Linked DNA regions of Homo sapiens. The protein of the gene in region 3 purifies or fractionates together with the protein of the main gene of each other region. This does not show direct contact. Each region holds a gene or a part of one and is shown on either strand. Other genes may lie near its edges. The genes, in order: MCM8, RTN4, COPB2, SEPTIN3, RUFY1, ZDHHC3 and NBAS.

Evidence for each region.
Region 1: the proteins of COPB2 (region 3) and MCM8 purify together in Homo sapiens (affinity purification with mass spectrometry; one large-scale study listed by BioGRID and IntAct). This does not show direct contact.
Region 2: the proteins of COPB2 (region 3) and RTN4 purify together in Homo sapiens (affinity purification with mass spectrometry; one large-scale study listed by BioGRID and IntAct). This does not show direct contact.
Region 4: the proteins of COPB2 (region 3) and SEPTIN3 purify together in Homo sapiens (affinity purification with mass spectrometry; one large-scale study listed by BioGRID and IntAct). This does not show direct contact.
Region 5: the proteins of COPB2 (region 3) and RUFY1 purify together in Homo sapiens (affinity purification with mass spectrometry; 2 studies listed by BioGRID, with this or other methods). This does not show direct contact.
Region 6: the proteins of COPB2 (region 3) and ZDHHC3 purify together in Homo sapiens (affinity purification with mass spectrometry; one large-scale study listed by BioGRID and IntAct). This does not show direct contact.
Region 7: the proteins of COPB2 (region 3) and NBAS purify together in Homo sapiens (co-immunoprecipitation; 2 studies listed by BioGRID and IntAct, with this or other methods). This does not show direct contact.

What each region holds. Positions count from the first base shown.
Region 1 is NC_000020.11:5,953,652-5,957,151, reverse strand, and holds part of MCM8 (DNA helicase MCM8), read right to left. Parts: intron 2,545-3,500; coding exon 2,462-2,544; intron 2,051-2,461; coding exon 1,901-2,050; intron 27-1,900; coding exon 1-26. UniProt on the Homo sapiens protein: Component of the MCM8-MCM9 complex, a complex involved in the repair of double-stranded DNA breaks (DBSs) and DNA interstrand cross-links (ICLs) by homologous recombination (HR).
Region 2 is NC_000002.12:55,040,452-55,043,951, forward strand, and holds part of RTN4 (reticulon-4), read right to left. Parts: intron 1-3,500. UniProt on the Homo sapiens protein: Required to induce the formation and stabilization of endoplasmic reticulum (ER) tubules. They regulate membrane morphogenesis in the ER by promoting tubular ER production.
Region 3 is NC_000003.12:139,372,648-139,376,147, reverse strand, and holds part of COPB2 (coatomer subunit beta'), read left to right. Parts: intron 1-533; coding exon 534-680; intron 681-1,559; coding exon 1,560-1,659; intron 1,660-2,339; coding exon 2,340-2,482; intron 2,483-2,735; coding exon 2,736-2,935; intron 2,936-3,500. UniProt on the Homo sapiens protein: The coatomer is a cytosolic protein complex that binds to dilysine motifs and reversibly associates with Golgi non-clathrin-coated vesicles, which further mediate biosynthetic protein transport from the ER, via the Golgi up to the trans Golgi network.
Region 4 is NC_000022.11:41,986,443-41,989,942, reverse strand, and holds part of SEPTIN3 (neuronal-specific septin-3), read right to left. Parts: intron 2,738-3,500; coding exon 2,656-2,737; intron 2,322-2,655; coding exon 2,184-2,321; intron 377-2,183; coding exon 259-376; intron 1-258. UniProt on the Homo sapiens protein: Filament-forming cytoskeletal GTPase. May play a role in cytokinesis.
Region 5 is NC_000005.10:179,599,054-179,602,553, reverse strand, and holds part of RUFY1 (RUN and FYVE domain-containing protein 1), read right to left. Parts: intron 3,287-3,500; exon of another isoform or gene 3,165-3,286; intron 3,070-3,164; exon of another isoform or gene 2,919-3,069; intron 2,482-2,918; exon of another isoform or gene 2,456-2,481; intron 663-2,455; coding exon 568-662; intron 491-567; exon of another isoform or gene 288-490; intron 178-287; exon of another isoform or gene 1-177. UniProt on the Homo sapiens protein: Activating adapter involved in cargo sorting from early/recycling endosomes. Regulates retrieval of proteins from endosomes to the trans-Golgi network through interaction with the dynein-dynactin complex.
Region 6 is NC_000003.12:44,962,675-44,966,174, forward strand, and holds part of ZDHHC3 (palmitoyltransferase ZDHHC3), read right to left. Parts: intron 1-3,500. UniProt on the Homo sapiens protein: Golgi-localized palmitoyltransferase that catalyzes the addition of palmitate onto various protein substrates.
Region 7 is NC_000002.12:15,470,835-15,474,334, reverse strand, and holds part of NBAS (NBAS subunit of NRZ tethering complex), read left to right. Parts: intron 1-10; coding exon 11-268; intron 269-987; coding exon 988-1,113; intron 1,114-3,500. UniProt on the Homo sapiens protein: Involved in Golgi-to-endoplasmic reticulum (ER) retrograde transport; the function is proposed to depend on its association in the NRZ complex which is believed to play a role in SNARE assembly at the ER. Required for normal embryonic development.

The DNA.
Region 1 (3,500 bases), on a different chromosome or scaffold from region 3:
TGCCTTTCAAGGTCCTTAGTTAACACCTAAACAGGACAGACATTTACTCTGAAGTTGGAAAACAAAACATCCTCTTTATACAGAACTCTATTTTTATAGAGAATATAAAGTTTATGGACAGAAACAGAATAAAAACAGAAAACTTTAACAGCCCTTTAAATATCTAATATTTAATTATGACTACTTACTTTATAGTGGATGTTTTACATTGGATTTTGCTGTCCCTGTGCTGAAAAACTCCAGCATCCCAGTCTGCTACTTTCTGTCCCAACTAAACCTAACATTAAAAGCCCTTACATTAGTCCCCAAAACCATCACCTCTTGATACTAATTAAAAAAAAAAAAATGCATTCCTATTTCTCTATATTCACTGACCAATCAAGACACAGAAAATAAAAATGACCTTTAAAATACCTAATACTCACTCCCTTGGCATTTAACATTAAATAATATAAACACGCTGGGCGCAGTGGCTCACACCTGTTATCCCAGCACTTTGGGAGGCCAAAGTGGGTGGATCCCCTGAGGTCAGGAGTTTGAGACCAGCCCGACCAACATGGTGAAACCCCATCTCTACTAAAAATACAAAAATTAGCCAAGTGTGGCAGTGCATGCCTATAATCCCAGCTACTTGGGAGGCTGAGGCTGCAATGAGGCAAGATCACACCATTGCACTCCAGCCTGGGCAACAAGAGCAAAACTCCATTTCAAAATAAATAAATAAATAAACAACAAACAAACATTTAATACCACTTGTACACAGCAGTTTGCTGGCAACCTAAGAGGCAAAATAAGATGCATATATACAGCTGTAATTGTCATAAGGACCATAAAGATGTACAGACAAAATACCATGCAAGTTTCGAAAAGTGGTCATGAGAAAGGTTTTACAGACAGACAACTGAGCTAGGCCCAAATAATCTGTCCATGTGAAGGGAAGGGGATTCTATGTTGAATGGACAGCACAGGCAAGAGGTAGAAGAATGCCCCTCTGAATGCCCCAGCACTTTGTGTATGCCTGTCCTGAGATTTGCTATTCATTACCTTGAAGCATGTATCTGTTTGCTAGCCTAAAAAATGTTTTTGGCCGGGCAAGGTGGCTCATGCCTGTAATCCTAGCACTTTAGGAAGCCAAGGCAGGCGGATCACAAGATCAAGAGATCAAGACCATCCTGGCCAACATCGTGAAACCCCGTCTCTACTAAAACTCCAAAACTTAGCTGGGCATGGTGGTGCACCCAGCCACTCGGGAGGCTGAGGCAAGAGAATCACTTGAACCCGGGAGGCAGAGGTTGCAGTGAGCGGAGATCATGACACTGCACTCCAGCCTGGCAACAAAGTGAAACTCCATCTCAAAAAAATAAATAAAAAATAAATTTAAAAAATTTAAAAAGTTAAAAATGTTTTCATATATGTTGTATTACCTGACCCTGAAAAAAAACTCAGGCAAGCACAGTACAAACTGTTATTTACATTTGATATACAGGGACACTCAGTGGTTTGCTTCATGCCACAGAACCTAAATCTAAGGTTGCTCTTTTTTGCTCTAAGTTCATAACCGATAACACCATGATTCCTTGTTTTATCTTCCCTATGAGATTGTATAACTTCTTGAAAGCAAAGTTTAATTTCTGCACAATCTTTAGCAAGATTAAGCAAATCCAAATAAGTTGGAGGTAAATATTTCATTTAGATAAGCTGTTGTATATAGAATGAATGGTATCTTTCAGAACGGAACTGCAACCTCTCAGTTCTAGCCAACATCTTTTCGTAAAAGCTAAGTATCTCTTATAGAAAGTACAGTCACTGTAAAATCTTCCTTTAAACTTAGACAAGGTGTGCATGTGTGTGCAAACATTAAAAAAGTTTAGACAAAAGTATGCATAAGACAAATAGTTACCTGATGTATTGCCAAACCCATGCAAGCCAAGGTTTTCTCAGGTGCATCTCTTAGTTCAGTTGCTATATCTGGTATCAAGTTAGTTACTTCACCACCTTCTGTCAGTTCTTTAAAATCTACCAAAATACTTCCCTTTCTTTCTATTTCATCCTATAAAATATAAAAGTATGAAAACAATAATTGCTTTTCTGTAGTCAATTACCATTAACTGAGCATTCTATTATAGACTTTGAGAAAGCATACAATGTTTATATGTGATAATGGTAAGTATGACATAAGTATAAGCTTTGTGCCAAGCATGGTTCTGATATTTTAAATATATTAATGTATTACTGCCTCTTAACAATCCTTTGAGGTAGGTATTTATACCTCTATCTCCAAATGAAAGAAAACTGAGGCACAGAGAAGTAATTAATCAAAGTCCATACTGCAGGTAAGTGGCAGAACTGAGGTCTGAACCAAGGAAGTCTGACTCCAGTGCCTACGATCATAATCACAAGTACCTCGAATACATTGGTAAGATGGCACATGACTGGTAGCTTTGCTGTAGAGGAATCTTACCTTGTCATACAAATCAATATGCCTTGTGAAAAATTTTTCAAATGCTTGAATCTTCTCAATCAAAGGAGAGCTATCGCTGTAAACTAATCCAACAAATATGGCATTAGCACAAATAATCACACAGGTACATGCACATTTTTCATGAGACAAAAGCAGCACTATATACATGGTAGATGATTTTTTTCTAATTGCTTTGTATTTTGATTACATTCATATAAGAACTAGTATAGAATGTAAACTTAAGATTCTAAAACAAATTTAGGTTTGCATAATGTGAAATGCAGACAGAAACTCTCTCTCTCTAAAAGCCCCACTATCTGGGAAACTTTGTTTTGCATCTTTGACACCTAATAGGACATGTTAGTTCAGATAATTTAGACAATAAGCTTAAACTAAAAATTATAATAAAGCCAAAGCCAGACACATAAACTAAGCTCTTACTCTGACAGAGCTGAAGACAATCACAATCACAGTCTTTCCTGAGATCAGGAGACAGACCAACACTTGACCCTGGTGGCAAAACTGAAAAGCCTTTTTTTTTTTAACACTCTAAAGTTCTACATTTTCAAATATGTCTCTCACAGAAGAACAGTACAATAAAGTAGTTTGGAAGCACAGATGGTGAAGGCTAAGGCACCTCTTGAACTCCATCTTTAGGACTGTCCAAAGATCACTTATAGTGTTCTGAGCTATCTGCTAGGGGAGCAATGGGAGTGCTGGTGGCTAATACATCCTAAAGGAACAAAAGATCATTCATGAAACAGATTCTATTGATGGAAAAAAACGAACAGATTTCCAATAAAGAAAACATTTGTAAAGTACTCTATTCATTCACAAAATGACTACTGCATGCCTGGTATGGGGCAGGGAGGGTCCTGGACCTCAAACGTCTAGTTTTCCTAAAAAAAAAAAGTATGCGGCTGGGTGCGGTGGCTCACGTCTGGAATCCTAGCACTTTGGGAGGCCGAGGCGGGCGGATAACGAGGTCAGGAGATCAAGACCATCCTAGCTAACACGGTGAAACCCCGTCTCTACTAAA
Region 2 (3,500 bases), on a different chromosome or scaffold from region 3:
TAGGTCACCTCCATCTACGGTTGTCAGGGCACTGAGATAAATGAACTCAATAATGGCACCTTCCATTTAGGCGAGTTTATAAATCAACCTACAAAGTTGGGGAGAAAGAACACGTAGGCAGACCTGGAATCCTTAAGTAAGCTTCTCTCTTTCCACAAAAGCAGTTCACAGATCTGTAAATATGTCCTGTAAGGCCAATCACAAAACTCCTCTGGTTTTAAGAGCAGAAAATTCTTTACAACTAAGGGCCTGTATTTTTTCCTTCATCTGCTACCTATACCTCTCATAAGTACAACCTCTATTCATCTTTCTTGTCCTCTTACTCAGCCCTAGGCCTAGTTAAAAAAAAAAAGGAATATATTAATTTTTTTCTTAATATTGAACTTCCAAGAGACCACCAATATAAGCAGCAACTCCAAACTCTTGAACAACAAAACTTTATAAACTTTCTGTATCTGTGGTAACAATTCCATCAATGAGAAAAACAAGCTATTAAAGAAATAATTATTTTTGAAAAGTAGAGGGCCACCTATGTAAAGAGACTGCTTTAAAAAAAAAAAATCCAGTATTTGGCAGCTATAGCTCCTAATACAAGAGTACAGAGAATATTTCTTTCTTTCTCAACACAATTTTTTTTTTTTTTTGGAAATGAAAAAGCAGGAAGACTTAGCTTTCTTTCTCAGTCAATTATCAATTGAAAAGAGAGAGCCAAATACCTGTATAATTCAGTATGTTACAAGGAGGCTAGAATATTTATTTTTAAAAGTCTCTAGTTCACCTAATTATATGCTAAATTTTTTTTAAATACATGTTAATAAAAACCACGTGTTTATGGAAAAATACACAATATCAACACCGAATGTATTTCAATTCTCCCCAAAATTAATCCATAAATGTAATGCAACCTACTAAAACTCCAACAGAGGGAGAGGGGACAAGATAAAAAAAATTTTAAGATGAAGTAGAAAATTATACACACATAAGATAGCCAAGAAAAATATTTATGGAAAAGCCGTTTAGCTAGTATTTAAAAATTATAGCACAACAGTCTGATACTTCTGTGTGAACTGACAGATAAATGGAAAAGCAGAGGAAATATTTCACCCATACTACAAGAATATGACAAAAATGGTACTTCAAAGTGGTTAAGAAGGATAATTCAAAATAAAAGGTATTGGAACAAATGGGAAATAATCTTGAAATATAAAATTATTTCACTACTTCACTCTCTAGAACAAAACAAACTGCAAATAAATCAAATAATTAAATGTTAAAATGAAATCATAAAAAGTATAAAAGTACTTACTAGGAGTAAACATGGGGGAAAATTTTTATGATCCTCAAGAAGGATTTTCTAAGGATTACATAAAACTCAATGACTTTTTTCACTTTTATGACTCAAAGTCATAAAAGAAAATGATAAATCTGACTACATAAAAATTTCTAAACAGAAAAACATACCATATGGTCAAAATACAAATAACAAATCAATAAAAAGTTTTCAAGACATATGACAAAAGGCTAGTTTCCTTACAATGCAGATTAAGTGAATCTACATACATGAGACCAAAAACCCAAAAGAATAGGCAAAAGCTGTGATCAGAAAAAATTTGACACCTAAGCCTATGAAAAATGACTCAAATTTAAAAGAACAATTTGCTAAACAATGTATTAGTTCACTAATATACTGTGTTGGTAAAGATATAAGGGAAAAGGTACCTTAACAGGTTGGTGGGAATAAAGGTTGGAACCATTCTTTGAATGACACTTTGGCATTAGCTACCAACATTTTAAATGCAAATATCCTTTGAAGCAGTAATTCTACTTGCACAGATTTATCCTACAACATATATAATGGCATGTATTCCCAAAGAAGTGTATACAAGAGTGTTCACAGAAATAGTATTTGTAAGAGAAAAAACTAAGTATCAACCTAAATAACCATCAATAAGGGACTGATTAAATAAAATATGGTACATCCCCAGAGTCCTCTGCATCTATTTTTGTGGAAAATAAAGTGAAAAGGATATACATGTATAAATAAATATTTATCCACAGATTATCTCTAAACAGATACTCAAGAAACTACTAACAGAGGGTGGATCTACAGAAGACAATTTGTGGAAATCTGGGTAACAGGTAGAAAGAGTTACTTTTCTGTGTATTCTTGTAGTACTGTTTGGAATTGTTACCTTGTATACATAAATAAATAAATGCTTTCGTAAGATTTGGGATTTTTATTGAGAGAAGATATTATAGTAATTCTAGAACTATACAGAATATGAAGATCAGCATCTTTCTCATTCAACAAACTGAGTGCCTATCACATCTAAGGCACTGCAATGCAGACACAATGCATACAGTCCTTTTCCTCAAAGAAAAAGGTCACAGCACCTTTCCTCAAGGAGTACACTGTCTGGTGGAGGAAAGAAATCAGTAACCATACCATTACCTTATATAGAATGATATATACTATGAAGAGGTAAGAACAGAATATTATGGAAACACGTGATGAAAGCAACTTAAAAATCAATGATCATCATTCCAAGAAACATAAATATCAATAGCTTAAATATGAAATTATCAACTCCTCCTTTGGGGTTAAAAAGGATGATGATGGCATTAGTCTGAGAAAATCTTAGCATCAGTAAAGCTGGGTCTCATCATTTTGCATACCTATGTCCTGCACTAGCTATCCACAAAGGTCACATTCATTCAAACACTACTGAGAACTATGGTTTTACCATTACAGTTCCCATCCCTAGTGCTGTCATCCTCAGAAGAACCTGATCCCTTTAGAAACAGGAACAAAAAGTCTCAAAGAATGTACCATAAGTATAGTATATCTGCAACATTTACTTCTATTTATTTAAGGGTTCCAGGGAAGAATCAAGAAATAGCCATTCAGTTTATACTTTTATCCTGGGCTAGCAAAGTACCTTAAAAAGGAACCATTAAATTGAGGCTTTGAATCAAGTTATTCTAATAAGTTGCTTGAAGGTATATTATGAAAATAAATGGCGGGGCACAGTGGCTCACACCTGTAATTTCAACACTTTCAGAAGTCGAGGTGGGAGAACTGCTTGAGCCCAGGAGTTCAAGACCAACCTGGCCAACATAGTAAGACCCCATCTTTAAAAAAATAAAAATAAGGCTGGGAGCAGTGGCTCACACCTGTAATCCCAGAATTGTGGGACACCGAGGCAGGTGGGTCACCTGAGGTCAGGAGTTCAAGACCAGCCTGGCCAACATGGTGAAACCCCGTCTCTACTAAGAATACAAAAATTAGCCAGGTGTGGTGGCACATGCCTGTGGTCCCAGCTACTCGGGAGGCTGAGGCAGGAGAATTGCTGGAACCTAGGAGGTGGAGGTTGCAGTGAGCCAAGATTGCGCCACTGCACTCCAGCCTGGGCTACAGAGCAAGACTCCACCTCAAAAATAAAATAAAATAAAAATAAAAATAAAAATATATTTAGGCTGGGTGTGGTGGCTCACGCCTG
Region 3 (3,500 bases):
GTTGTTAGGACTACATGCGTGTGCCTTCATGCCCAGCTAATTTTTTACTTTTTACTTTTTTGTAGAGACAAGGTCTTGCTGTGTTGTCCAGGTTGGTCTTGAGCTCTTGGGCTCAAGTGATAACTTCCATCTCGGCCTCCTAAAGTGCTGGGATTACAGGTGTGAGCCACCACACCCAGCAACTTTTAATATATCTTACTAAATCTACTTTCATGAGCTGTATATTAAATCTATAATAAAATAATTTCATAACATCTAGATTCCTGGGCGTCACTGTGGATTGACTGACTTATAATCTCTAGAGATAAAGCCTGGAAATTGGCACTTCTTTTAAAGAACGCCATAGTGATTTTGCTCCCTGAAAATTCAAGTAAAATGAGAAAGAACAAAAACCAAACAGGATAAAAAATAAAATTTGATAGCTCTTCTCTCCTGGGCTTTGGCATTTTACATAATGTGTCAGAAATATGGTGGATTTGCCTTTTGTAAAGCAAGGCCCCATATTGACTGGCCGATGCTGTTTCTCTCTGCAGGTGTGGCAGTTGGGCTCTTCGTCACCAAACTTCACTTTGGAAGGACATGAGAAAGGCGTGAATTGCATTGATTACTACAGTGGTGGGGACAAGCCATACCTCATTTCAGGTGCAGATGACCGTCTTGTTAAAATATGGGATTATCAGGTACAGTTTTTCATAACCTTACTTCCATATGTTAGATATGTTTCTTACTATTTCTTATAGGACAGTTAAGACTTGGGTTGTTGAAAACTGTTCACAGCATAATAACTTAAGGTATCAGTATTTGCACCTAAACTGTGTTCCCAGAATTCTCCATAAAAATGAAAACAATGCATATCAAGATTTTAAAAATAAAATACCAACATGTTCATATTTCATTTCATAATTGCATTTAGAAATTTTAACATTTTAATGTTGAATTATCCTCCATAATCTTCATTGATAGACTTCTATTCATTTTTGTAAGCTAGCAGATCAACAATTACCAACCATTTTGCCAAATCGTACTCTTGTAAACCTAGTTATGAATTCTTGTTAACATGCTTCCTATCTCTAAGATTTTCTTATATTTTGATATTTTTGTTTTCCACATCAAAAGTTCCCATAAGCAATTAATAAAATGAGGTCTAGAAAGTCAGTTTTTCCTTGAAACATTTTCAGATTTGTACTTAAATCCAGAATAAAAATATTAAAGGCTAAAGCAGCACTGTCTACTTAGCCAGTGATGGTAGGTGTGAGTTTTAAGGGGGAAATCTATTATCCTGAGAATTTGGGGGAATAATATTCAGACAAAAGCCTTCTTGGGTTTTTTTCCCCTTCTTTAAATGTGATAGTTACATTTACATTTATTTTACAAAGTAATTAGATAAAATATTCATATATACAACAAGATCATCCTATTTCAAAAATTTCTATATTGGATATTATTTAGATTTTCATGACTACTATCATTTATAATGTATCTGTACACTGAGAAAATTAAGGGCGGGCTGGTTACATGTTTTTCATTAATAAAACATGTTTTCTATGTCTTAATTACAGAATAAAACATGTGTGCAGACACTGGAAGGACATGCCCAAAATGTGTCTTGTGCCAGCTTTCATCCTGAGTTGCCAATCATTATCACAGGTTCAGAAGATGGTAAGTTAGAAGGGTATGTTTATTCCTGTGCTAGTAACTACTCAGTGGGCATTTAAAGCAAGTAATGTCTCTGCATTATAATTGTAGGTTTCCAAGGATTTTGATATTTTTATTAAAGTACCAGACTTAAGCTATAAAAGAGTAAAGGGGCATTATTTTCATCATCATCATCATCATCATCATCATCATCGTCATCATTCTCATGTATTTTGATTCTGTCACTTAAATAAGAGGACCGTCAGCTGTCCTAAAGAGAAACTGAAAAAGCATGTGCTTTGGAGTCAAACAAACCTGGGTTCAAAATCAGGCTCTGTTATGTCATGAATGTGTGTTTGGGCAAATTATGAAATGGAAACATATATATCTGCTTCATAAAATTATAGTGAGAAGAAATTGTGGGTAGAAAGCATCTGGCACATAGGAAACACTTTACCCAGGAAATCCTGTTATTATTTCATGTTTAAAATCGTAATTCTTAGTTTTTGTTTCTTATATGTTATGTGTTATGTTTATGTTGCTTTTAAAAATCATTTAAAGACAGTAGGTCAAAAAATTGGTCATTAAGCTGCCAGGAAGTGTTATCTGTTTGAATAGAAAGACTTCTATGGGTCTCTTTCACCTGACACAGTTTATTGTCGGATGTTTGTATCAAAAGGGAGTATTTACATTGTTCTTTTTAGGAACAGTACGTATTTGGCATTCAAGCACCTACCGGCTTGAGAGCACACTGAATTATGGAATGGAGAGGGTATGGTGCGTGGCCAGTCTAAGAGGGTCAAACAATGTCGCTTTGGGCTATGATGAAGGGAGCATCATTGTTAAGGTAATTATACTATCCCTCTCAGTAGGTGGACATAGGCAAAACCATTTTCTTTGTATTTTAGTACTGTCATCTTCCAAGTAACCAGTTTTATAAAACTGGCACTTCTTTCATTAAGCACTAGACATTAAGCAATGAAGATTTAAAGTGGAAGAAAGGAAATGGAGCTCTCTGTTAGGTGAAAAAAATAATCTGTTTTGTTTTGGTTTTATTCATTTTCCTTTTCATTGCTGAGAGCTATTTTTCTTTCTTTCAGCTTGGTCGGGAGGAACCTGCCATGTCCATGGATGCCAATGGAAAGATAATTTGGGCCAAGCATTCAGAAGTCCAGCAGGCCAACCTAAAAGCAATGGGAGATGCTGAAATTAAAGATGGTGAAAGATTGCCACTGGCAGTAAAGGATATGGGCAGTTGTGAAATATACCCTCAGACTATTCAGCACAATCCTAATGGGCGGTAAGCCATCACCAAAATTGTCCCTCAGCTTCTGTGTATGTTAGAACAGGTTTGCAGATCCACAGTCCACTCTTGCCCTGTGGTTGGCATCTCTAATCATTCCTCAATGTGCTTTTGCCCTGGCCTCACAATCCTCAACACAGCTGCAGTCAGCCATGCCACTTGATCAAGTTGGCACAAAAGATGGAGCATGTTTCCCATCTGGACTTGTTCTATACCACACAATTTTGAATAGTTAAATAGTAGTTTCCTGTTATTTCGCATGCATTGAGTTTGTGTTTTTGTGTGCTCCTTTGAGGGCAAGGAGTATGTCTTATGCTGAGACTTAGTAGGTGCCCTCTCTAAATGCTTGCTGACTCATTGCTCTTTCAAGAAGAAAACCTGACTCTGAGATATGTGTCTTTTGAAAAAGTTTTGGGATTGATAATAATTCTGTTTCTTATTTGTAATTCGAACTGTCAGTTGAATTTCTCCCTTAAGATTTGTAAGTCACCAAACATCTTGTGAGAGAGGAGTTTCTAGCACAGTGAAGTCTAAACCTGTGGAGCTTTAAAATTATTTTACA
Region 4 (3,500 bases), on a different chromosome or scaffold from region 3:
TATTCAGTGGTCTTCACAGGTAGGTTTGGAGGGTGGGAAGAAGGCAGCCCAGAGCTGTGCCATCTTTTCTTCATCATAGTCCCCAGATACCACCAACCTCAGCCTCTTGAATGGTTAAGAAGGGGGCTGGGGTGGAGAATTGGGGGAGGGTTGAGGGTGGGGGTGAAGGCAGAATGATGAGGGCTAGGAGATGGCCTGAACCCAGCGGAGAGAAAGGAGGGGATGGGAACAGGAAAAGAAGACAGGGGGCCTTCTCACCCTTTGCTTGAATTCAGACTTCTCCTCCAGGGTCATGGTGTCAGCCTTAGCAATGACAGGGATGATGTTCACAACCTTGCTGAGGTGTTTCATGAACTCAAGATCCAGAGGTCGCAAGCTGGGGCACAGAAAAGGCAGAATCATCAGAGCCACCTTGCCCTCCCCAACTCAGCCACCACCACCACTCCAGGACACCCACAGGAGAAGAGGACTGGGCTGGGCATCTGGCTGAGGCCAAGAGGCTGCTACCTCTCGTCTCCGACACAGCCCCACTGCCTTGCCGTCTGTAGAGCAGCCTCAACACCTGCCTTTTTCTTTTTCAGTCCCCTTGCAGATTCTGCCTCTCTTTAAGCCCCCCTCAAACCACCACTTCAGGACATCTTTTCTGACTCAGGGATTTCTTTCTCCTGGGAGCATCTGTGGACTACTGTCTCTACTCATATGTCCTTGTGCGTGTGTGTCTTTTTTCCTTTTTTGTCTGTCTCAAAAACAAAAAACAAACAACAACAACCAAAAAAAAACAACACTGTGTGTGTCTTTTTTTTTTTTTTTTTTTTTGAGACAGGGTCTCACTTTGTCACCCAGGCTGGAGTGCAGTGATATGGTCATTGGCTCACTGCAGCCTTGACCTCCAGGGCTCAAGCAATCCTCCCACCTCAGCCTCCAGAGGAGCTGGGACCACAGTTGCGCACTACCATGTCTGGCTAATTTTTAAATTTTGTGTAGAGACAATGTCTTGCCATGTTGCCCACGCTGGTCTTGAACTCCTGGACTCAAGCAATCTTCCTGCCTCGGCTTCCCAAAGTGCTGGGATTATAGGCGAGAGCCACCGTGCCTAGTGTGTACATCTTGTTCTGCCTATCAGACTACTTCTTGACAGGTCTCCTCCTAGCCCCCAGAGTTAGTCCTGCAGGGCCAAACTGGAGGCCTTGCCCTTCCCACAATCTGACAGTCTATGCCCCCATCCTACCTCAGGCTCTGAGACCCCAACTTGGCTCTATTTTGCAATCTCAGGGACTCACTAAGTCAGTCTGTCTGATGGTTCATTCTGACCAGGGGGTCGAAGCCTAGGGAGGGATAAAACCAGCCTTCTGTTGAGTTCCTGGGTCTAGCCCAGGGGTCTTGTTTCATCTCTCTTCTCCCCCTACCATCACTGCCTGGTTCCTAGAAAATTTGGGGCTTACCTTGCTTGTGCCATCCTCTGAAGAGCTTAACTCTGGCCCAGCAGCTGGGCTTAGTAATGTTATGGGACCCCCCTCCCCCGGTCTCTGCAGGAAGGTTTCTGGCCTGCCCCCTAGGATCTCCATCCTCTGCCTGTTCCCAGCACTTCCTTCATGGGGCCCACCTGTCACTCACAATCAGAGTTCCCAACATGCTTGTGTGTGTCTTATTCTGCCTATCAGATAGTACTTCATGACAATGGTTGGCCTTCATCTCTGAACACACAATGCCTCACTCCAGGCTGGTACCTTCTAAATGCCTACAACTGGGTCCCTACCCTCCAAACACCAGCCCCAATCCAGGAGCCCTGCACTGCCCTATTTCACCCTTCTTGCTGCTCCCTCCGACTCCAATTATTTTCCAAAGCAGGTATTTGGTGAATAAATGAAGTGCCCTCTGCTCACATTCACCAAGTCCTCTTTGCTGATACAGTTGTGCCATGCTGCTGGGACACCAGTGGGCAGATATTGGTGGCTGATGTTGGACAGCTTTAACCTCCTAGCAAGAAAGTCAAACTTCCTCGTGGAAAGTCTAGGGAATCCCAAGGTCATGGGCCATGACTATGTACCAACCCATCTGGCTGGAAGGGCTAGGACTCAGCTAGGGAGGCCTAGCTGAGTCAACGTATGGATCATCCAATCCAGATGGGCACAGATGATACAAACCAGACCAGGCCTGACAATAGGGGTAGGGTTGGTACATACGAGTGTCCTGTGGGAGAGATGAAGTAAAGGCAGCAGTGGACACGAGTGTCAGGGATGCGTTTCTTCCTGGCGATGTTGACCTCCTCCTTCAGGAACTTCTCGTACTGCTCATTGATGTACTTCTCAATGGGCTCCCAGCTGATGGGGAGGGAAAGTAGATAGATGCATCAGAAGAACAAGACCTAGGGCTCAGCTTAGGCATGATCTGGTAGCAATCTCCTTACATTCATGTCATTCCCTGGTTGGTGGGCCTAGGATACCTGCTGCCAGATTCCCCCTCAGCCCCCGCACCGATGGCTTTCCTGGATGGTTAGTTAGCAGGGGTGGAGCTCCCCAGGGGCCCTGGCCTGGGCTGTCGGGAACTACAGAGCATGGAGGGTGCAGATGGTTCTCAACGTGAATGAATCTGCACCATAGTAAGTATCTTCCCAGCAGAGTCTTTAGGGCAAAGATCTCAGAGGCAGACAGATACCAGTTTTCATTGTTGATTTGGTCTCCAAAGCCTGGGGTGTCGATGACGGTCAGCTTCATTTTGACACCGCCTTCCTCTATCACTGGGGGTGAAAAGAAAATGTACCAGAGAGGTCAGTCCTACAGCTGACCCCAGGTACCTGGCAGCCTACTAGCCAGGGAGACCCAGGCCTTGTCTTCAGGATCAGTTATTGGAAAAGTCAAATTTAGGGTCTTTTCCATCTCGATATCATGGCTTATGCTGTTCCCTGTACCTGGAATCTGGAATACCCTCTCTACTCATTTCTTTTTCTTCTTCTTTTATTTTTTTTAAGAGACAGGGTCTCACTCTGTCACCCAGGCTAGAGTGCAGTGGTGCAATCACAGCTCACTGTAGCCTCGAACTCCCCAGCTCAAGTGATGCTGTCGCCTCAGCCTCCCCAATAGCTAGGACTACAGATATGCACCATCATACCCAGCTAATTTTTTTTTTAAGAGACAGGGTTTCGGGCCGGGCGTGGTTGCTCACGCCTGTTATCCCAGCAGTTTGGGAGGCCAAGGCAGGCGGATCACGAGCTCAGGAGATCAAGACCATCCTGGCTAACACAGTGAAACCCCATCTCTACTAAAAATACAAAAAAAATTAGCCGGGCGTGGTGGCGGGTGCCTGTAGTCCCAGCTACTCAGGAGGCTGAGGCAGGAGAATGGCGTGAACCCGGGAGGTGGAGCTTGCAGTGAGCCGAGATCGCACCACTGCACTCCAGCCTGGGCGACAAAGCAAGACTCCGTCTCAAAAAAACAAACAACAAACAAACAAAAAAAGAGACAGGGTTTCACTGTGTTGACCAAGATGGTCTCGAACTCCAT
Region 5 (3,500 bases), on a different chromosome or scaffold from region 3:
CAGGCGTCCACAGCAACCTATCTAGACTGGGACACCAAGGAGGAGAGCTGTCAAGTCAGAGGGGAGCAGAACTACCAGGGTCTGCACCCCATCAGCACCTGCAGCAGAGACAGACAGACTCTGGCGGATGCAGTGGCCAGTTCCCCGAAAGGAAGGGGGCTGTGCTGTGCAAGGCGGGTGAGTGCACCTCTACTGTGCCAGGCTTCCGTTCCCAAACCAGCCCTGCTCCCTCTGGCCTGACTGTAGGCTGACCAAGCGATCCTCTCATTGCCCATCTGTTCCCTCAGGCCCTGGATATGAAGCTAAGGAATAGGAGTGTCCTGGTCACTAGGAATGAACGTGCTTCCTGAATTAACTAAGAGCTCGCTGACACCCCATGTGGGTAGCAGAGATCAGTGCTGGGCCCCTCTGAGGCCGGGCTTCCTGAGAGCTCATCCGTGAACGGCGGACTGAGCTCCTAAATGGCCCACCCTCCGTTCGCCAAAAGGAGGTAGGTTTGGGGCCTGAGGGATGTGGTGGGTAGCCTGGTGTGCCTGCAGTGGCAGACAAGGGGAGTGGGGTTCTTACTGGCTGAGGTGCAGGCCCATTTCCTGGAGGGCTTGTTCCTGCTCCTCGCAGATCTTCTGCAGCTCTGCCTTCTCGTCCTGAAGCTCCCGCAACTCCTAAAATGAACAAACCAACCAGATGCTGGACAGAGGATTACACGGTCCTTTTTTTTTTTTTTTTTTTTTTTTTTGAGACAGGGTCTTGCTCTGTTGCCAGGCTGGAGTGCAGTGGCACGATCTTGGCTCACTGCAACCTCCGCCTCCTGGGTTCAAGCGATTCTCCTGCCTCAGCCTCCCAAGTAGCTGGGACTACAGGTGCCCGCCACCATGCCCTGCTAATTTTTGTATTTTCAGTAGAGACGGGGTTTCACCATGTTGGCCAGGATGGTCTCAAACTCCTGACCTCGTGATCTGCCCGCCTCGGCCTCCCAAAGTGCTGGGATTACAGGCGTGAGCCACTGCACTGGCCTTTAAAAAAAAAAAAAAGATTCAGCAACCAGAGCAACAAGCAGATCAGAATGTTTTTCAAGAGCAAAAGGTGGCCAGGCACAGTGGCTTATGCCTATACTTCCAGCACTTTGGGAGGCCAAGACAGGTGGATCACCTGAGGTCAGGAGTTTGAGGCCAACCCGGCCAACATGGTGCAACCCTGTCTCCACTAAAAATACAGAAATTAGCTGGGTGTGGTGGCAGGCACCTGTAATCCCAGCTACTTGGGAGGCTGAGGCAAGAGAACTGCTTGAACCCGGGAGGCGGAGGTTGCAGTGAGCCGAGATGGTGCTACTGTACTCCAGCCTGGGCGACAGAGCAAGACTCCATCTCAAACAAAACAAAACCAAAAAAAAGAGCAAAATGCAGTCCTGTATTAATGTCATTCAAGATTATTTCTTGCTAGCTTACTCTTGACACTGGGCAGCTAAAAGGCAAGCACTCGACGAGGGCTCTGCAGCTGGGGACAGAGACATGGGACAGGATAGTTACATTCATCAGCCACATTAAAAATAGTTACCCTCAGCTGGGCGCAGTGGCTCACACCTGTAATCCCAGCACTGGGAGGCTGAGGTGGGCGGATCACCTGAGGTCAGGCATTCAAGACCAGCCTGGCCAACATGGCAAAACCCCTCCTTTAGTTAAAAATACAAAAATTAGCAGGGCATGGTGGCACATGCCTGCAATCCCAACTACTCGGGAGGCTGAGGCAGGAGAATCGCTTGAACTGGGGAGGCGGAGGTTGCAGTGAGCCGAGATCACACCACTGCACTCCAGCCTGGGCAACAGAGCAAGACTCCGTCTCAAAAAAAAAAAAAAAAAAAAAAAAAAAAAAGTTACCATCATAGGACAAATGAGGCTTTGCCTATTTGAGCTTCTTTTTAAAAGATAAACATTTTACAAAACAGATTGCTATCTCAAAAAATCTATAGAAGAACTGTACACAAAATCACACGAACCTTGCATCAGCAAAGACTAGTTTGAAAGGTGGTTTCCTGTTCAATTCTGAAAAAGCTGCTTTTTTGGAAAGCACTGGTCAAGGATGATGAAGGGGGTGACCTGGGACCTCATTTCATGGCTAGACCACTTGGAGGCTGGCTAGACCATGTGAGGAGCCCTGCACGGAGGGAGTTCCCCAGGGGGCAACGGCACTGACACCTGGGGCCAGTGCACCTTGAGCCAGTCTGTTAAGGCCAGGATGGAGACCCAGAAAGTAACTGGGGTTTCTGGGACCACTGGGAGCAGCGGTGGAGCTCGGGCCCGAGTGGCGGGGTGGCTCTCTGCACACCCTGTGCCGTAGCTTCTGCTTCCATGCACAGGCTTGCAAAGCACAAAGCTGTGGCTTAACTGGGGTTATTAGACATTGTTTTGTTCCTATTGTTGGGGCGGGCTGTAATTGTGTAATTCGAATCTTTTGACAGAAGCATTCTGAAGCAGAATAAAGGAGGTATGCCCCGTGATGAGGCGGGACTTTCTGAAAGTCCTCTTCTGCCCTCCACTTCCTCCCTTCCACTCTCCAAGCCTGATCTGGCTCTTGAGGAAGCTCTCCCTTCCCCAACAACTCCAGGCACTTTCCAATGGAAATCAAAAGGGCCTTTCCTGACTCGCTCGAATCGTGCAGTGTGTCCATTACCACGTTCAACACAACAAAATCCAGGTCCAGAAGCCACCCTGGCCCTGAAGGCCCCTCCGGGGCAGGTGCCGAGGGGAGGTCTGCTTTGGGCTCAGTTTTCCTGCAGCGCTCGGCAGCGCAGGGGCCTGAGAAGAGGGCACGCCATCCCCACGTGGGAGGAGCCCCCCAGAGCGCCCCAGGCTGCAGTCAGCTCCATCCAGGATCGCAGAGCCTCCTCCCCTCTGGGAAAACAGCCGATGATTTTACATTAGGGCAAATGTTCCACACGGCCTCGGAGTTTCCTGGGAGGTCCAGTTCCACAGCCAGACAGTGAAGGCCTGCTGGACCCCACTTCTCTCGCCCTCTGAAGCCCACAGCATCCAGGCCATGCCTCCAAGTGAGAGGGTCCTCCATGGAACTGAGGTGATGTAGGGGAAGTGGAGGGCTGGGGTCGGTCTGCTTCCCAGGGATGACCCGACCCTGGGCACAGTGGCTGAGGTGAGGCTGGCATGTGGTAGGAGATGTTTACTGGTTCCTCCCAGCTTCCTCTCCTGCGAGCCTACCACCCACTCTCCACACAGGAGCCAATGACCATCCGCAAACAGAACGGATCCTGTCCCTCCACCAGCTGCCCACTCTGGTAAAATAAAACCCACGTTCCTTCCCCTGGCTCCCAGGGCCCATGAAGGGCTTCCTCCTGCCTGCCGCCTGAGGCCGCCTCTTTGCTCCTCACACTGCTGTCTGCTCCTGCAGTCTCCACCCAAGAGGTGCTTTGCAGGGCATAACTCACTGGAGCCTCTGCTCACCGGTCGCTCCCTCCCCAGGCCCCTTGCACACGGGTGAGGACACTGTTC
Region 6 (3,500 bases), about 94 Mb from region 3:
GCTACTGAAATTCACTGGGTCTCGGCTTCACATCAACTGGCTTGCTCAGACTGTTATAATTGCCGTTCTGGCATCTCTGTATATGATCCTTTGTCTTCCTCCTCCATTCCTGCCTACTCATTTCTGTGTCTACGGTCACCAGTCATACCCACATATCCTCTATTTACTACTGCTAATTGGCTGTGGGCTAGAAAAGCAAATAAACTAAGTCTTGTTAGATTTATTTGCAAAAGGGTAGTCATTTTGGGTAATAGGCCTTCAGGGAACAACTGCTAAGCTCTTCACCATATAGTCCTTGAGAGGAGGACTTATTAGCCCAGTGGCTGGCACAGAGTAGCCACTTAATACATGTGTTGATTAAATGAATGCATGAGATTTGTGATCCCAGGCCCACTTCTTAGAGGCACTGTCTGCTTAGTTTCAGGACTGTGACCATATTCTGCATGGTGGAGAGTGTGTCAAGTAGGACCATGAGGTAAGTGGACTGACTCTTACTCAAGTAACCGGAATGTTCTATCTTCAAACAACGTGGGACCAAAGAGTGTACAGAGGAGCTCTGTTTTCCCATGACCCTCACTGGTGAGCGAGAACCTGTGATCTAGGAAAGGACCAAGCCAAAGGTGTACCTGGCAGGGCCAGACACCAAGTCCTGACCTGAAGGGCACATTCCACACTTAGAGTTTCAAAATATCCCCATCAAAACCAAGAAAGGCATACTGCTATAAAAAGGTTGCTTAACCCCCAGACCTCCCAAAAGCAACAAAAGTAGCTTTCAAGAAAAGATTTGTTCCTTAAATTAGCCAACTGAAAATCTGAGAAATATGGCAAAAAAAAAAAACCCACCACGAAACAAACTGTATATGTTCCCTTTATCCTACCCCTAACAAAAACAAAAAAGGCAAATATGGACCCCCTTTTCCTTTTCTATTTTGAATTAGAGAAACTCCAATCCTTAGGGTTGAGCAGTAGACCTCTGCCAAGGACCCACCTCCCTACAAGTGTCCTTACTTCCAAGGAGCTGGGCAGAACTGGTTACTCAGGCTTCTGGGACAGGGCCCCGAAGATGGGCCCTAAGCCCCAAACCACATCTGCCAGCACATGCTCTCAGAAGGGCAGCCTCCTCTAGTTCCCCCTCCCTGTCTCCTTCACCCCGGCCCCTTGCCCTATTTGGTCTCTAAAAACTCCTCTCTTTATTCAGTTCAACTCAAAAAGACATTCATGGAGCAGCCACTAAATGCAAGGAGCTGTGCAGGGGGCTCACACACGAGGGATGATGTGGACAATAATGTGTGTGTGCTGCCCTGCTCAGGCCCTGCCAGTTCCCTCCCCCAGCTCCCAACCTAATAACACTAGTCTTATTTGCTTTTTTTCCACCAACCTGCAAGTCTCATTTTATTTAGCTCTGTAGCCTAGTGTTTGGTATATGTGCTCAAATCAATAATTCCTGAGTGACTGGTCACATATATCAAGCAGACACACCCACAATAATGCTAACACATAGGTGACTAATGAATAGCACAAAAAAGGGACAAATAGTACCAGAAAAACCCGAACACCAAAAGCAACAAAACCCCAACAACCATAAGTGAAATAAATAGACTTTTTCATGGCAAGGACTTCTGAAGGGGTGGGCTCTGAGCAGCACCTGGAGCCAAGTGAAGCATACTGCTTACAAAAAGGCAAGGGGGGCCGGGTGGGCCTGGCAGGAAAATTGGTGGTACTAGTGGGGAAGAGGAGGGGCAGGATGACCAGGGCTGTGTGCGTGTCTGTGGACAGATGCAGGCTTTGTAGGAAAGAGAGGAGGTGATTCGAGATGAGGCTTTATAGGTAGGAGAAAGTTGTGTTTTAGAAAGCCTCTAAACTTCATAATGAGATGGGATTTCATCCTGAAAGGTACTGGTGAGCCATAAAGTTTCTGAGGAAAGTTGTGCAGGAATAGTACTCATGCTGTGGCAAGACCACTCTAGAAGTGACAGGCAAGACAGATGAGAGGTCTGCGTCCAGAGGCCGACAAGTCCAGGGAGGCACAAGGGCAACAGGCCTGAGTCTCATTTTGGTGGTATTAGGTTTTCTGTTCCTCTAAGTGGCTAATAGTTTTCCAAGGAAGATCTAGAACAATGATCATTTTGTAACTTGAATTATAGTAATCTATATTGAAGTTTTTTGGCTAAGGGTTTTATAGCATTAAAAAGAGTTAGCGCCTCCATATATTAGTATTCCATGTTCAAAGTAATTATTATTTTCACCTGATAGAAGAGTTCACTGAAGCCCAGAAAGGCAAAGGAACTAAGCCTGGGGAGGGGCGGGGGTAAGGAAGTCACAGGGGAAACGGATCCACAGGCCCAGAGGTGTTCTGGAGCTCCCTAGTGCCAGCAATCCTGATAAGATGTGGTGTCAAAATGATGATCTGAGCTCTGTGAGGGGCAGTGTGTGGGAAGTCAAAGGAAATCAGCTAGTATTCCTTCATAGAGTTCTAGAAACCAAAACCAAGAAATGCCTGAAATTAGTGCTATTCTAAAAGCAACAACAAAAACTGCCTGTGGTCCAGAGAATTGCCTCCAGATCCATACATAACACACGTGCTTCATTATACCTTATCATAAGTGTGCTCTTCCACTAACCCACACTGACAGACACAAATATACTTAGTGAAGTGGAGTCTGGGGCTCCATGAGCCCCAGGGACTGGGTTGCTGAGTCAGCCTTGGGGTATACCACTTATGCCTCAGTCCCCATGCTGTCTCTCCATGGTAGGCAGCTCAAAGGGTTTGAACATCGTGGTGCTAATGCCAAGCTCTCAGGCCCCATCCCACTGTGGCACTTCATCGGGTTGGCCAGGATGAACTGGCCTGGCCAAGTGTTGACTGCTAGTGATGGGCAGAATCCAGCTACATCATTTGTTGAGTGAGGGGCAAATCCCTACTAATCTTTATCATGTGGCAAAAAAACCCAAAACAAAACCCTGACCCACAGTCCATGCTTTATGGACAGGGTCAAAGCATGATTGTCACATCAAACATAAAGTTCTCTACTGAATGTATTAGAGTCCCAAAATGCCACTGTTCTCAGTCCAGCAAGTGTACCAAGGACCCCCATCCTCTCAGATTGCCAACAAGTCCTATTCACCTGCTTTTATAAGACAAGATCCCACACTAAAGTCATGGAGTAGTTCAGCCAGATCTAAAACCAAATCTTTGGAAGCACCTCAAAGTACTTTGTGAGGATTACTTTTCTAAAACACCGCATCCACCCACATTCTCACATCCACATGAACATTCATGCACTCGTGAACAGCACACATCTTGAGACGGTACAAAGTAGCATCAACAAAGGGCAATTAATTCAACCATTGGAGCCTGTATGAAATAGCTGTATACAGACTGGTTTAACAAACTTGAAATCAGGTGCAATGATCTCCCCTTGGCTTAGAGATAAGGATAATCTATATACTTAAAACAAAAATTGAGGGATTAAACTTTCTGGCTCCCTACAAGTAGGAAC
Region 7 (3,500 bases), on a different chromosome or scaffold from region 3:
TTCAATTTAGTGTGAGATTAAACTTGCCCCCAAACGATCTCGTTTGGAGACTAGAGCTGGAGAAGAAGATGAAGGAGAAGAGGATTCTGATTCTGATTATGAAATATCTGCCAAGGCTCGCTACTTTGGTTATATAAAACAGGGCCTTTACTTGGTGACTGAAATGGAGCGATTTGCACCACCACGGAAACGCCCACGAACCATTACTAAAAACTACCGCCTTGTGAGTTTGCGCTCCACGACACCAGAGGAACTTTATCAGAGGAAGGTGAGAGAGTAGCATATTACTACCCAAGTTTGAAGTCATCAAGCTTTTCTTTTATTGAGAAAAAGTTAATTTTTTAATAAAGGAGAAAATTTCAAGAGGGATGTTGGATCATTGACATGTTAAAAATATCAGTTCTATAAAGCTTTTTAAAATAATGCTAATCTTTGTACCTAAATAATCAAAATCAAAACCATGGATAAAAATTGAATTCACTTAGACTGATTATCCACTTGGTGGCTTAGCTCATTTCTTTGCTACCCTTCATGTGGCCTTCAGCTCTCCCTTTATCTGTGTTTAAATCAGCCATCTACAGAGGGTGAAGGAAGAAGTTCAGACTTGCTTTCTAGTCCAGGGCTTGCTTGGGAAGCCGAGGTGACCAGCACTGTGTGTTCACGTGATTTGTGCTGTTCTTGCAATGTCGTGGTAGGAGCTCTGGACTAGAAGCCGGGTTGTTCCATGGTTGTCTTGGTTTTGCCGCTGTTTTACTCTAAAACGAGAGCTTTGCACCTTTTATCTCTCATCTTTCTGTTGAAGTGCTGAAAGAAACACGAGATCTTTCTGCTCCTCAAAATATCTGTGAGCTTCTGGTGCCACAGTGCACAGGAATTAGTGACATGCTGGATAAGTCCAAGGGATTATCATCATTCATTGTATCATCATCAGGACCCTGTGGATAATTCAGTCATGTAACATTCCTGTCCTCGTGTTTTTATCTGAAGATTGAAAGTGAAGAGTATGAGGAAGCCTTGTCCTTGGCTCATACCTACGGCCTGGATACTGACCTTGTATATCAGAGGCAGTGGAGGAAGTCAGCGGTCAACGTTGCTTCAATTCAGAATTATTTGGTATGTTTAAATATTTTGGTAATGTGGTAAAATGTATATTCATGTAATATCTTTTGTTTATAGGGCTTCATTTTAGAGTACTTTACATTGCTGACTTTTCTATAATACAGCCAATGAAGTACAATTTTCTCAGCTGGAAAAATGGTCTTTTTGTTAGATTTTATTGCCCCTGCAACTGGACTTTGATGCTGAATACATGTGAACAAATATTCACAGATAAACCAGCTAACTACTTGGTCTCGGCCTAACGTTTTCTTTCCTGTACCACAATCACTTCTCTTTACCTGCATGAGTCAAGAGCTAGTCAGATGCCAGAAATCACACAGTAATTTAAACAGGGAAATTTACAATATGGAGAATTATTTTCTAGTAACCAGAGATGAACTATAAAGGATGTGAAGAGAACGCTAAGGACTACCCTAGGGCTGAAGGGACATATCCATGAAGGGAATGAACTTGGAAGGGAGGCCCCTCCCCTAGGCTGGGATTCAGACCCATTGGACCAGGAGTGGTTGCAGCATGTAGGATGGAAGAGAAGTTCTCTGGGTTGCCTTGAGCCAGGGCTGGTCCACGGTTGCCAAGGTTGGCAGTCAGGGAGATATGGGATGGATAGGAAAGCTGGACGCCTGCTTCTGGGGGGGGCCAGTGAGCTGAGGTTGGGGTTTAGAAGACCCCAGGGACTAGGAAGCAGGAAACCCCTACCAGCATGCATGTGGCTCAAGGCTGGTAGATAATTAAGGAATCATGGCCAAGACTGGCAAGAAAAAACTGTCTACTCCTATAGGCAGCCTTACTGTAGCTTCCAGTCTGGGAAGCTTCCCTCTCAGGTGCCTGGGTGATTCACTAGAAAACAATCTGCCCATGAGAGTGTCACTGAAACTCAGTGGGAGGTTGTCAACAGAGGGAGGAAGCGGGGAAGTAAGTGCCACTTGATGTTGCCCACGTGCCTTGTTGGTGGCCAAGCCATAGGAGCAAGAAGAAAAGAACCAAAGCACATCAGGACTAGAAAGCAGAGCCTCTTCCTTTGCAGTGGCCCTCCAGCACCCAGAGCTTAAAATCGTGTCAACCACAAATGAGATATGCTACCACAGAGCTGGCTTTGAGGGGAAATTTGGAGCTGAGAGGCAATAAATAGGTAACATATATGAAAACTGCGAAATATGCCTTTTTAAAACTTAAATCTCAAAACTGGATACTTCCTGTTACCTGCCTCCCATAGTTAAGGTTAATATAGTCTTGTCTCAATTAGTTTTAGCCGCTGCAACAAAAATATCAGACTATGTGGTTTCAACAGCAGAAATTTATTTCTCTTAGTTCTAGAGGCTGGGAAGTGCAAAATCAAGGTGTTAGCCAATTTCGTTCCTGGTGAGGGCACTCTCCTGGTTTGCAGATGGATTTCTTTCTTGCTGTGTCCTTATATGGCAGACAGCAGAGAGAGAGAAAGAAGGCTCTCTACTGCCTCCTCTTATGAGGACACCAATCCTATCATGGGGCCTCCACTCTCATGACCTAATTGCTTTCTAAAGGTCTCATTTCCAAACATCATCACTCTGGGGATTAGTTTTTCAACATATGGATTTTGGGGGACATATTGATTTCATAGCAAGCCTATATGTTTTAACCTTTGGCATCTTTGTAAGAAAGAATTATAGTTAGACTCATGGCATACTTTTAAAAAGGTTGAGACTTCTGATCTTAACATATAGAAAGGAAAATACCTTTGCATTGTGGAAGATTATAGGAAACACTGGGAAAATTTCATGATGATTATTTCCCTAAAAGTTTTATACGTTAGTAATTAAAAGTAAAAATATAACATGAAAAAGTTGTATGGAAGAAGATGATGCATCAGCCAAACAGGATGATAAACCTAACATTAATACAAGCAAGATATCAGAGGTGAAAGAGCATGAGAGGTAATGAAACGGAAGAAGATAAAGTTGCTTGTATTTTCTTTAGAAAATCAAAACACTAATTCTGTATTATTTTTCTTTCTTGTTTTGTGATCTAAGACAATGAGCTCATGAGTTCATGTATATCTTTTTCTGGGATACAGTAAAGGACAGTTTTTGTCTCTGAGGGAGTTGAGGGATGTTAAGAGAGACAAAGCAAGTACTTTTTTGGGGAGGGGAATATTTCGTTTAGTTAAATAGACAGTTAAGAGCAAGAGCACTATGCTAGGGACTGTGAAGGGGTACAGGACAGGCATAAATGTGGCTTTTGCTCATAGGGAGCTTATGATTTTTTTTGTTTTGTTTTGAGATGGAGTTTTGCTTTTTTTTGCCCAGGCTGGATTGCAATGGTGCGATCTCGGCTCACTGCAGCTTCTGCCTCCCTGGTTCAAGTGATTCTCCCGCCTCAGCCTCCCAAGTAGCTTGGGACTACAG